Regions from separate parts of the Homo sapiens genome. Here region 2 is linked to region 1. Evidence: fine-mapped expression QTL. Tissue or cell type: whole blood. Region 1 holds a variant in brackets; the other region holds the start of a gene. All regions are shown on one strand. Distances are from middle to middle.

Evidence for each region. PIP is the estimated chance that this variant, and not a neighbour inherited with it, causes the effect.
Region 2: KIAA1671 starts here. The variant in region 1 is fine-mapped to the expression of KIAA1671 in whole blood (TOPMed, PIP above 0.99).

Annotation. Positions count from the first base shown.
Region 1 is chr22:25,067,016-25,072,159 of GRCh38, forward strand. The region is part of intron 6 of KIAA1671; the gene reads left to right. Among named protein-coding and RNA genes, the nearest start is that of KIAA1671-AS1, 43 kb to the right of the region's middle. RefSeq lists enhancers at 1-63, 2,608-3,158. The variant G/C (reference allele first, on the strand shown) is at 2,967.
Region 2 is chr22:24,950,161-24,955,304 of GRCh38, forward strand. KIAA1671 reads left to right here and starts at 2,556. Exons shown (of 13, transcript NM_001145206.2): 1 at 2,556-2,612. RefSeq lists a silencer at 2,373-2,622.

The DNA of each region.
Region 1 (5,144 bases):
CAGCCACACTCCCCGGGCTGCCTCGGCCCACGGGTCAGGGTGGTGGTCAGGGCGGCCAGAGCAGGATAACCAGGACTGGGCACTGGGGGCAGCTTCTCCTGGGGGTGTGCCCTGGTGCGTCTGACCACCTCTGGTTGGGAGATGGGGACTTGGGGGTCTCCATTGTTGGCACCTGCCCAGCGGTGCTCCCCTCCCCACACCCCCCACCTGGTCCTAGATTGGCTCTGTCTCCACCTTGGACTCGCCGGGTCTTGGACCTTTGAACGTCTCTTTTTATTCTTAGCCCCCTGCCCTGTCACCATTGTCACTGCCACCTCCAGCTTTCTCCCCGGCTGTTCCTGGTGCTCTTTGTCCCTGCCCGCCTCCCGGGCCATCAGTCTGGCTTACTTTCTCTGACTTCCTTTGGGGTTCATCCCTTGCCCTGCCTGTCGCTCTCCCATCAGAACCCCTACCCCACCCATCTCCCTCTCCTCTCCCTCCATGTCTCTCGTCTTTCTCTTTTTCTCCTTTCACCCTCTGTGTTCCCTGTCTTGCCCTTCCCTCCCTGTCTCATGCCTTTCCTGCCTGTAACTTCCTTCTCCTTCCTCCCACCTTCCTCCCTCTGCCCTGCGCCTGGCCTGCCATCCTCTCTTCCTCTCTCCATCCCGCCTGTCTCTGGCATCCTGTCTGCCTCCTTCCAGCCCCTTTCTCTCCGGGCATTTCTCTGTCCTGGGCTGATAGGAGACCAGACAGTCAACCCTTAGCAGCCTCCATGCTGACTGTGGCCCCTGTCAGCCAAGGGGTGTCAGAAAGGCCCTGGCGGGCCCCTGTGTTTATGGCAACAGTCATTCAGTAGGGCAGCCGCGAGCGCTGCATGCCCCACTTCTATTAATCCCTCAGTTAGCGGGGCCTAACCCCAGACTTGACACTCATCAGCCAGTCAGCCAGGACACGCAGCGCCAGGGGTACAGCCAGGCAGCTGGCATCATCCCTCCAGCGGTGCCGCCAGTGCAGAGGAACCAGCCCTTTTGCTGCACTTTTGTCGGTCAGCAGGACCCAGTGCTCTGGCTATGCTGTCAGCTGGGGCTGTCCTCTGACTGGTACTGTCAGCTGGTGAGCAGGGCTGGCTTTTCAGCTGTACTGTCTGGCAGTTAGGGAGCAGGGCCGGCCTTCCGACTGTGCCGTCAGGGAGCAGGGCCAGCCTTCCGACTGTGCCATCAGGGAGCAGGGCCGGCCTTCTGACTGTGCTGCCAGTCCCTGGCTCTGCCATCGCTGGGGCCAACCCCTGACTTGTCAGGCAGCGAGCAGCTGAGACCCAGTGCCTGCTGGGAGTGGGGCGCTGAGAATCAATGAAACCACAGGCCTGCCTCTGAAGAGCTTTGAAGCTACCCCGTGGTTTTCTCAGCTGCTGCACCCAGCACCCTCTCCTTGTTTTTTGTTTTTTTGTTGTTTTTTTTTTTGAGACAGAGCCTCACTCTGTCACCCAGGCTGGAGTGCAGTGGCACGATCTCGGCTCACTGCAAGCTCCGCCTACCGGGTTCACGCCATTCTCCTGCCTCAGCCTCCCGAGTAGCTGGGACTACAGGCGCCCGCCTCCGCGGCCGGCTAATTTTTTATATTTTTAGTAGAGACGGGGTTTCACCGTGTTAGCCAGGATGGTCTCGATCTCCTGACCTCATGATCTGCCCACCTTGGCCTCCCAAAGTTCTGGGATTACAGGCGTGAGCCACCGTGCCCAGCCCACCCTCTCCTTATTTAAGTGAGTTTCCTGTTAGATGCTCTGCCTGGTGTCCAGTGGTGAGGCTGAAGGATGCAGCACAGATGGGCCCAGGATGTTGCTGGGGCAGTCAGTGTGCCAAGCTCCAGCCTGGGGGCGGGAGCCTGGTGCAGAACCCAGGGCCTCTGCCTGGTGCCTCTGTGAACACCTCCCCCGCCTCAGTTTTCCCCTCTCAGCAGTGAGAAGGACCTTGCCTCAGAAGCACAGCTGTCTTGCATCCGGCGCTCACTTGCCGGAGTCTCTGGGTTATGGCCTCGGCTTATGAGGAGCAGGTGTTGAGTAGGGGATCCAGGAGCGTCTGGCTTGTATTTGAATCCCTGTCTCACTGTTTAGCTGCTGCTCACCTCAGGAACCTCTTTTGACCCTGTGAGTTTTGGTTTCCTCATCTGGACAGTAGAAGTGATGATACTGCCCTCATGATATGACCATGAAAACTAAACTAGATGGTTTGGCAGGATTCTACCTTGTTGAATCCTCAAAGCCCTGAACACAGGGATAATTTGTCGCATTTTACAGAAGGGGTAACTGAGGCTCAGGAGGATGAGGTGACTTGCTAAAATCATGCTCTTTTGAAGGAAACATCTGGGAAAGTTTGCCTTGGATTTGCCCGAGGTGTGCTTTTATTGCATTTTAATCTCTGAAAATTGACATTCTCCTCACTCCCCACCTGGTGCAGCTGGCAGCTGGTGCCTCAGGGAGCTGATCCCTCCCTTTGCCAGCACCCCACTCCCCATGCTGGGCTGGGTGTCCACAGGAGTGGACGGGCCCAGGAATCATGGCTGGGAGGCCTGGGTTCCAGCCTTGCTTTAGCTACCAACTCACCGCGTGACCTTGGCCAAGTCCCTTGACTTCTCTGGGCCTCGGTTTTCCTCTCTGTAAAATGGGGATGGCCACACCCTCCTTCTGGGGGGATCAGAAGCTTAGCTGAGTTTAAAAGGAACATGACTGACATCAAAGGAGCCCGGTAAACCAATGGGATCCTGAGTTGATTTCCTTCCCTGTAACGAGTGGCAGGGCCTCCTTCTCCTCATGTGGTTTGGGGAGGAGGAACCACATACATTTGGGCTCACACGCACAGCACACAGTCAGTCCACACATGCACAAAACACACTCGTATGCACACATGCACACATACTTGACTCCACGTAAAAGCATGTACACACACACTCCTTCATGCATAAACACACACACACACGCGTGCACACATTCA[G/C]TTCCCGGGCATCACCTTCTCTCTTCTTGCCTTCTTGCCGTACAACTGAAAACCCTAAAACCCTCCGTGCCTACGGCTCCCGGGAGGGTGAGGGTCCAGGCAGCTGGGTTCAGAAGGATCCACCCCTGGACCCGCCCCACTGGACGAGAAGCCAGAGATGCCCCGGGCGGGGCTCATAGGACCGAGTGGTGGCTTCTCAGTTCCCCAGGCAGCCGTGGCCATTAGTGGAGCCGACTGGCTGGTCCCCTGGCCGTGAGCCGGCTTCTGAATGATTTATGCCGCCTTGAACTTGACTCCAGCGTGACAGGAGTGAGAAGAGCCGCTCCCGCTAGAGGAAAGCTGGAAACCGTACTGTGCTCACCACATAACCTCTGGGTGCTGGAAATGGAGTATTACTACTGCCCCAGCCTGCTGAAGCTCTTGCGCTACCTCTGGGTGAGTGGCGGGGGGCAGTGCAGGCTCCAGGACGGGGTCACGTCCTTTCCCTCTCCTCCTGCTTCCTGTCAACTTTGCTTTTTGGCTGTGTCTGGTTAGCAATGTCTCTGTTTTCTTTAAGAAATGGTGGAGGTTACAAGGAAGAGAGAATGTTGGGGAAAAAGGAAACGGGCTTGGTTTGGGAGGTAGCACAGGTTTGTAGGAAGAGCTGAGACTCCTGAACAGGAATGAAGATCCTGGATCCGATGTGGGCTTTCCTCCAGTCCTCAAGAAAACAGGAAGAACGAGAACCACTTCAGTGAGTTTTTCAGAAAGCAACATTTATTTGATTTAAAGGACTATTCTTTATTCTGAAATTACATCCCTCTTGCCTCTGTGTGTGTAAGAATGTCTGTCTTCTATGGGATGAAAATAATAGATTTTGCTTTCCTTTTCCTGAACCTACACAGTGATAGAAGAAGTTGGGACCCCTTCCCCACTAACACTCACACTGTGCTGTCTCCTCTGGATAACAGAGGAAAAAAACCAGAACATTTTCTGATGAAATGCCAAAGTCAGGGAAGCTGTGCAGAAGTGCTTTGTGAGGTATAAAATGCTTTCAGGTCTCACTTTGACTTCGCAACTGGTCTGTTTTCTGTGCCTGGGCAAGTTACTTCTCCTCTCTGGGTTTCTGTTTCCTCCTCTGTGAAATAAGGAGTGGGTGTAGGTGATTCTGGGTTGTGTGACATCCATCAGGGCTCTGGGAATAGAGGGACTTACCGAAGAATTGTCATGGGCTGGTCTCAGAGTTTTCCAGAATATTTGCCACTGGTTTCAGCACACCCAAAAGGGAAAGTCTTAGGAAATATTATCTTTCCCATTGCTGAGTGTTTGCAAATACTTCAGATGCCTTCTTGCCCAGAGAATTTTCCAGCGCTCCTAAAAATACAACTTTAGGAAACATTGCCTTTTAGCCGCCAGTCCCAGAGTGTCTCACCTCCCTCCTGAGCCCCCCAGAGCAGTGGGGAAACAGGAGATCCCCCCAGTCCATATTGTTCAATCATTGGCCTATGAACATTCTTATATAATAAATGTAAGGCAACATTGATTGATTGATTGATTGATGTTTTAATTACAAAAATAATGCATGTGCATGGTAAAAAGATATGGAAAATTCAGACAGGCACAAAGAAGAAAAGAAGTCTCCAATAATCGTATTTTTGAATTGTGTGGTTTGCAAGGTCTGGATAACCTTGATGTGCCTGGCTGCGTGTTGGGCTCTGGGCTCCATGCTGGAGATGCAGAGATGACTAAGATACAGTCCACGGTCCCCAGAACTTAGAGCTTGGCATAGGTGTTGAACTCATTGACAAATGGCTACGATCTCATGTTCATTCAGCACACACTTACCAGCAGTAGTTTGGAGCTAGCGCCAGATACTTGGAATATAGGAGCAAGACGGCATGGTCCCCTGACCGCATGGAACTTAGTCTGGTGAGAATTTGGACTTTGCTCAAGGAACTGAAACAAGGACCATGTATGTGTTAGGATGGGGGTGGTGCACAGTGCCTCAAGGGATATGGTCTCGTTGGGGTGCAGGGGCCAGGAGAGCCTCCCCAAGGAAGCTGAGTGCTGGAGGATGCCTAGGAGCTGGCAGTTGATGCTAGGGTAGGGGTCCAGGGAAGTGTGTGCCAGGCAGAGGGAACAGCATGTGCAAAGGGCTGGGGTGGATGTCAGAAAGAGCAAGAGCCCATGGCATGCCCA
Region 2 (5,144 bases), 120 kb before region 1:
GTTCTATTGGACAGAGCTGACACAGGCTAATCAGGACCTTCTGGAGGAGGGGACAAAAGACTGCGAAGAAAGGGTTCTGGGAAAATCCCTGGGAAGCACTGTGCTCTATTCTTAGAAAAAGAAAAGCCAGGGCTGGGAGTGGTGAGGTTGGGGGAGGGAGGGGTGTTGCCTCCGGAAACTGTACTACCTGACACCTCTTTGGTCAGGGTCTACCTCTGGGTATGTGCGAGCTGGCATCTCTCACCTAGGCGGGAAGACACAGGAATGCAGGGGGAACCAGCTAAGGTGGGGGCTGACCAGGAAGTCCTGCCCCTTCTGGGTCCAGGTTCAGGAGGACTCTGGGAGTTGTAGTTCAGCACCTCTGGAATCCCCTTAAAGCTTGACAGGGATAGAAGAGCTGACACCCGGTCTGGGCTGGGCATCTCTTGGGGCAGAGAGTAGGGTTGATGGTCAGGGCTGGGGACGTGTCTGGGTTTGAGTCTCCATGGGGGGTGGCAGGAGGAGGACTATCTTGTCCCCTCCCATCCTTATGTTCTGGAATGGAGAGGCGATGCCAAGGTGGAAGCCTGCATTGGCTGGGGAGCTGAGAAACATGGAACATTCCATTGAACAGAACCCCCAGCCTACGCATTCTGGTTCATGGAGATTTGCCCAGGAGAGACAGGAAGTTCCCATAAGGTTAGGGAGGAGGGGCAGCAGATGGCATGTCATCAGCTGTTGGTCATTCATGCACTCAGCATACATTCTTTGAGCACCTATTGTGTGCCAAGCCCTGTTCTAGGCACTGGGAATCGGAGGTGAAAGACAGACAGAAGTCCCTTCCTCCAGGAGGTCTAGAGAGAAGAGCAGACAATCAACGATTTTCCTTTGCTGGTATAACATACACGTCATGTAAAGGCCTGACTTACGTGGATTTTGAAGGATTTTAAGTTTCAACCCAGCCGTTCCTGGTCTCCTACTCACAGACTTCTCTCTGGAAGTGGTAGTTGTCTGTAAAAGCAACTGGGTTTGATCCTTTTGATGACTGTACTCAAGATACCCAGATGATAAGGAGAATGTCTTGAGACATGAGACCTCATGGGACCTCTGCCCCCCAATTCCTGGGTTCCAGCACTGTACACAAGTCAGTTGGGGGTTCTCGGGCTGCTGTTTGGTAAACAGGGTTTACCCTGCCTGGGTCTGATGGTGATGATCAGACCTTCAAAAGGGTTGCAGTGCAAACGGTGTGGAGAACAGGAGCTACCCTTGTTTCTTACACACACCCAACAATTTAAGAGCAAAATGAGGCAAGAAGTCTCCCCACCAATCCTCCTGAAGCCACACAATGTGATGTCTTTTTCTTTTTTTTTTTTTTGAGATGGAGTCTTGCTCTGTCGTCCAGGCTGGAGTGCAGTGGCGCGCTCTTGGCTCACTGCAATCTCCACCTCCCGGGTTCAAGCCATTCTCCTGCCTTAGCCTCCCGAGTAGCTGGGATCACAGGCATCCGCCACCACGCCCAGCTAATTTTTGTAATTTTTAGTAGTGACGAGGTTTCACCACGTTGGCCAGGCTGGTCTCAAACTCATGACCTCAGGTGATCCACCCGCCTCGGCCTCCCAAAATGCTGGGATTACAAGCCACCGTGCGCAGCCTGTGATGTCCTTTTCTTTCTCTTTTTTTATTGAGGTCTATCTTGCTTATAATAAAGGCACATTGATTTTAGGTCCTCCAGTTATTCATGCTCTGTACATTTCCCATAGGAGCACATGTCACAGATTCAATTTGATATACTCGTGAAATTATTTGTTTGAATATCTGTAAGCTGCACAACAGCCTGGATTTTGCCAGCTGCCCACCACTGGGTTCTCCAGCACCCAGCATGCAATAGGTGCTTAATAAAGATCTGCTGAATGAAATGAGTAACGGATAACAGAACAGGTATTTTCTCTTTCAGAGGCGACTTCCTACGATTCTCTCAACTTGTCCACAAGTTCCTGTACCCATTACCCCACAACTCACACCCACAACATAATGGCAGGAGGATGCGCACACAGTAGGCGCTCCAGCGAACTCTCAGGTGCAGTGCCCTTGCTTGGCGCGAGGAGGCGCCAGCACCGCGCACAGACCTTGCCCGCCCCCGGGCCGGCACCAGCAGCCCAGGCAAGTCAGTGGGCCCACATTTATGGAGCGCCTCCTGAAATCCTGGGTTGCATTAGGCTCTCGGGGTCGCCGGCTGGGCAGCGGGTCGGTGCCGGTGGCGGGGGATCCTGGCTGGTGACTGGGGAACATCCAGGGAACGCGGGAGGGTACCCGGAGCAAAGTTCCCAATTGGACAGAGCGGGGTCGGGCCTCGAGGGGCGGGAGCGCTTCCGGCAGGGGTGTCCAAGCGAGTCGTGACCTCTGACCCGCCGGAGAGGTCCCAGGCCCAGGCGCCACTGCGGACTCGGGTCCTGCCTGCTCTGCTCCCCTCCGCGCAGGCGCGGCCGGCGGCAGTTCCCATGGTGACGGGGGCGCGTCCCCGCTCGAGGCCCCGCCCCCAGCAGGCTAGGCTGCGCGGGGCTGCGGGCTCCCAGGGCAGGTGCCGCGGGCTGCGGGCAGGTGGCGGCGCGGCGCGGGCTGGCGGTGGCTCCACGGTAGGTTGCGCAGCGGCTGCGGGCAGTGGGGGCCGGCTGGCCGCCTCCTGTCCCCGGCCGACGAGGTAGCTGGGGGTGACGGCGGCTGGCGAGGGCCGCCAAGTTTCTGCCCGGCCGAGGCCCCGGGAGAAAAGTTGGCAAAGTTGGCCGGGGAAGAGGCGGGGAGCCGGAGGATTTCCCCAGACTCCGGGTCTGCAGGGAGGGAGGATCCCGGTTTGGGAGCCGGGGAATCCGTCTCCCGAGACTTGAGAGTGGATCCCGCGGGAAGATCCCGCACAGGGCAACCAATGGATCACGTGCCACCTGGTTGGCGACTTGGGAGTCGATCCCTGGAGGGGATCGGGCGCTGGAGGCCTGGGGTCCCACTGGATCCCCAGTCAGGGGTGACGGCGAAGGGTGATTCGAGACTGGGAGCGAGAGGATCAATCTCCTCCCATGCCAGCCTGAGCCTTGGGAATGGATTCAGAGAGATCCCGTGGCTAGGAGCTGAGGGATCGCTGGAGATCTGGGTTACTCAGCCTGGAGCTGCTAGGGTCTGGACATTTGTGCGGGTTGGAGGCCCCGGAGGTGGAAGTGGGAAGCAAGGGCGGCGAGCGAGACGGAACCCTGGTCGAGGGGAGCCCGGAGGACAGCGCGGTGGTTCGGGGGGCGTGAGAGGGGCGGCGCGCGGGGCCCCTCGGACGCGGAGGCTCCGGACACGTCCTCTCGGCCTGGCCTGCGCCCCCCCTCCGCTCGTCTTCCCAGGGCGGAGGCGCCCTGATGGGATTAAGCCTCAGTCCCCCTGTTACCAGGCAGGCCCGCGTGGTCCCCGCCCCGATGGCGGCGCGGCCCACCCGGGCTCACGGGTGGGGCCCTCGGGATGGGAAGCGGCTCGTTGACCCCCACCCGAGCCTGACCTTTTCACACCCTGCTGGCACAAACTCGCCTGGGAGTGGGGACGCCGCGCCTTAAAACCCTGCTGTTTGTCCAGTCCCGGAGCAGGCGTGTGACCTCCACCGCGCGACGCCTAGGTGGCTAGGGCTTCCTGCCTGCCGGGACTGAACTTTCTCTAGCCAGGAGCAGCCATTATCTTTTGGAAGGGAAAGGACTGTACCTGTTGCACAAAGAAAAACACTTTCTTTGCACCTTTTTTGTGACCTTGGGCAAAACACTTAACCTATCTGAATCCAGATGGGGACCCTCTGGGCAAAATGGGCTTGGCCTAGGATGGATCGGAATGAAGGGTATGAAACAGGTAGGGGCTCTATAAGTATCAGTGCCTCCCTCAGTCTATGGCCTCTCCTTTCCCGTGCCCCATCCCCTGTGCTTGCCTTACAGTATCTAAAGATTCCAGAAACCCTACTTGCTATCTTTTGAAACCGCAGGATTAGAGAGCTATTTAGCTTAACCTTTCTTCCAAATGGGTTAATTGCCCCTCTGATCCCCCCTTGCAGAGAGAAGCTCTGAGGTTTGGCTAATGAGTAACCAAGACATTTGGACAAAGCTTCTCCCTTGGTCTGGCTTTCCCTCTGCTAATCCATCAAGGTTCCTGGACAAACGTGTGCACCCCCAGACTCTGGCGCCTCCTTCCTTCCTGTTGCAGCCAGGGACAGTTCCCGAGGAATTTGTACAGACACAAGCCCAGATCTTGGTGGTTCTGGCAGGGGGATCCTTTTTAAAGGATTTGCATGCTTGACAAGGGTGCAATTACCCAAGAGAAGTGCAGAGTTTCAATGCAGTGTCTGGACATACATTTCAGCTGGGCACATGAACTGGCTGGCTCCATCAACCAGCGTGTATTGAGCACCTATGTCAGGAGCACTGTAGAAATGGTGTGGCCTAGGGCAACTCAGGATTTGTCCTCTTGGAGTTACTTTCCAGCTATGGAGCAGTCGGCTTGCCCTGCAGTCTAGTACTGATTCTTGATGTTGGGGATACAGTTCTCACCCTAGGTTCAGAGGCTGGAAGCTGCCCCTACCCCCACTGGAGGTCCTAGGGGCTGCTTTTTTTCGTTTGTTTTGTTTTGTTTTGTTTTATTTTGTTTTTTGAGATGGAGTCTCGCTCTGCAGCCCAGGCTAGAGTGCAATGGCGCGATCTCGGCTCACTGCGACCTCTGCCTCCCGGGTTCAAGCAATTCTCCGGCCTCAGCCTCCAGAGTGGCTGGGATTACAGATGCCCGCCACTCTGCCCGGCTAATTTTTGTATTTTTAGTAGAGATAGGGTTTCACCATGTTGGCCAGGCTGATCCCAAACTCCTAACCTTAGGTGATCCTCCTGCCTCCGCCTCCCAAAGTGCTAGGATTACAGGCATGAGCCACTGCGCCTGGCCGGGGCTGTTTTTTATTGAAGGCTGACCTTGGCAGGAGAATGAAGGAGCCAGTTGTCTGGCTCTGAGCATTTCTCCTCACCAGGCTACATCTCTGACCAACTCAGAAACAGAGCCTCACAGGGATATTTTATATGTGCATTCATTCATTTATTTATCATTTGTTCCTTCAACAAATATTTCAAGACACTGTGTCAAAGATGAGGCTAGCAGCCACATCCTTAAGG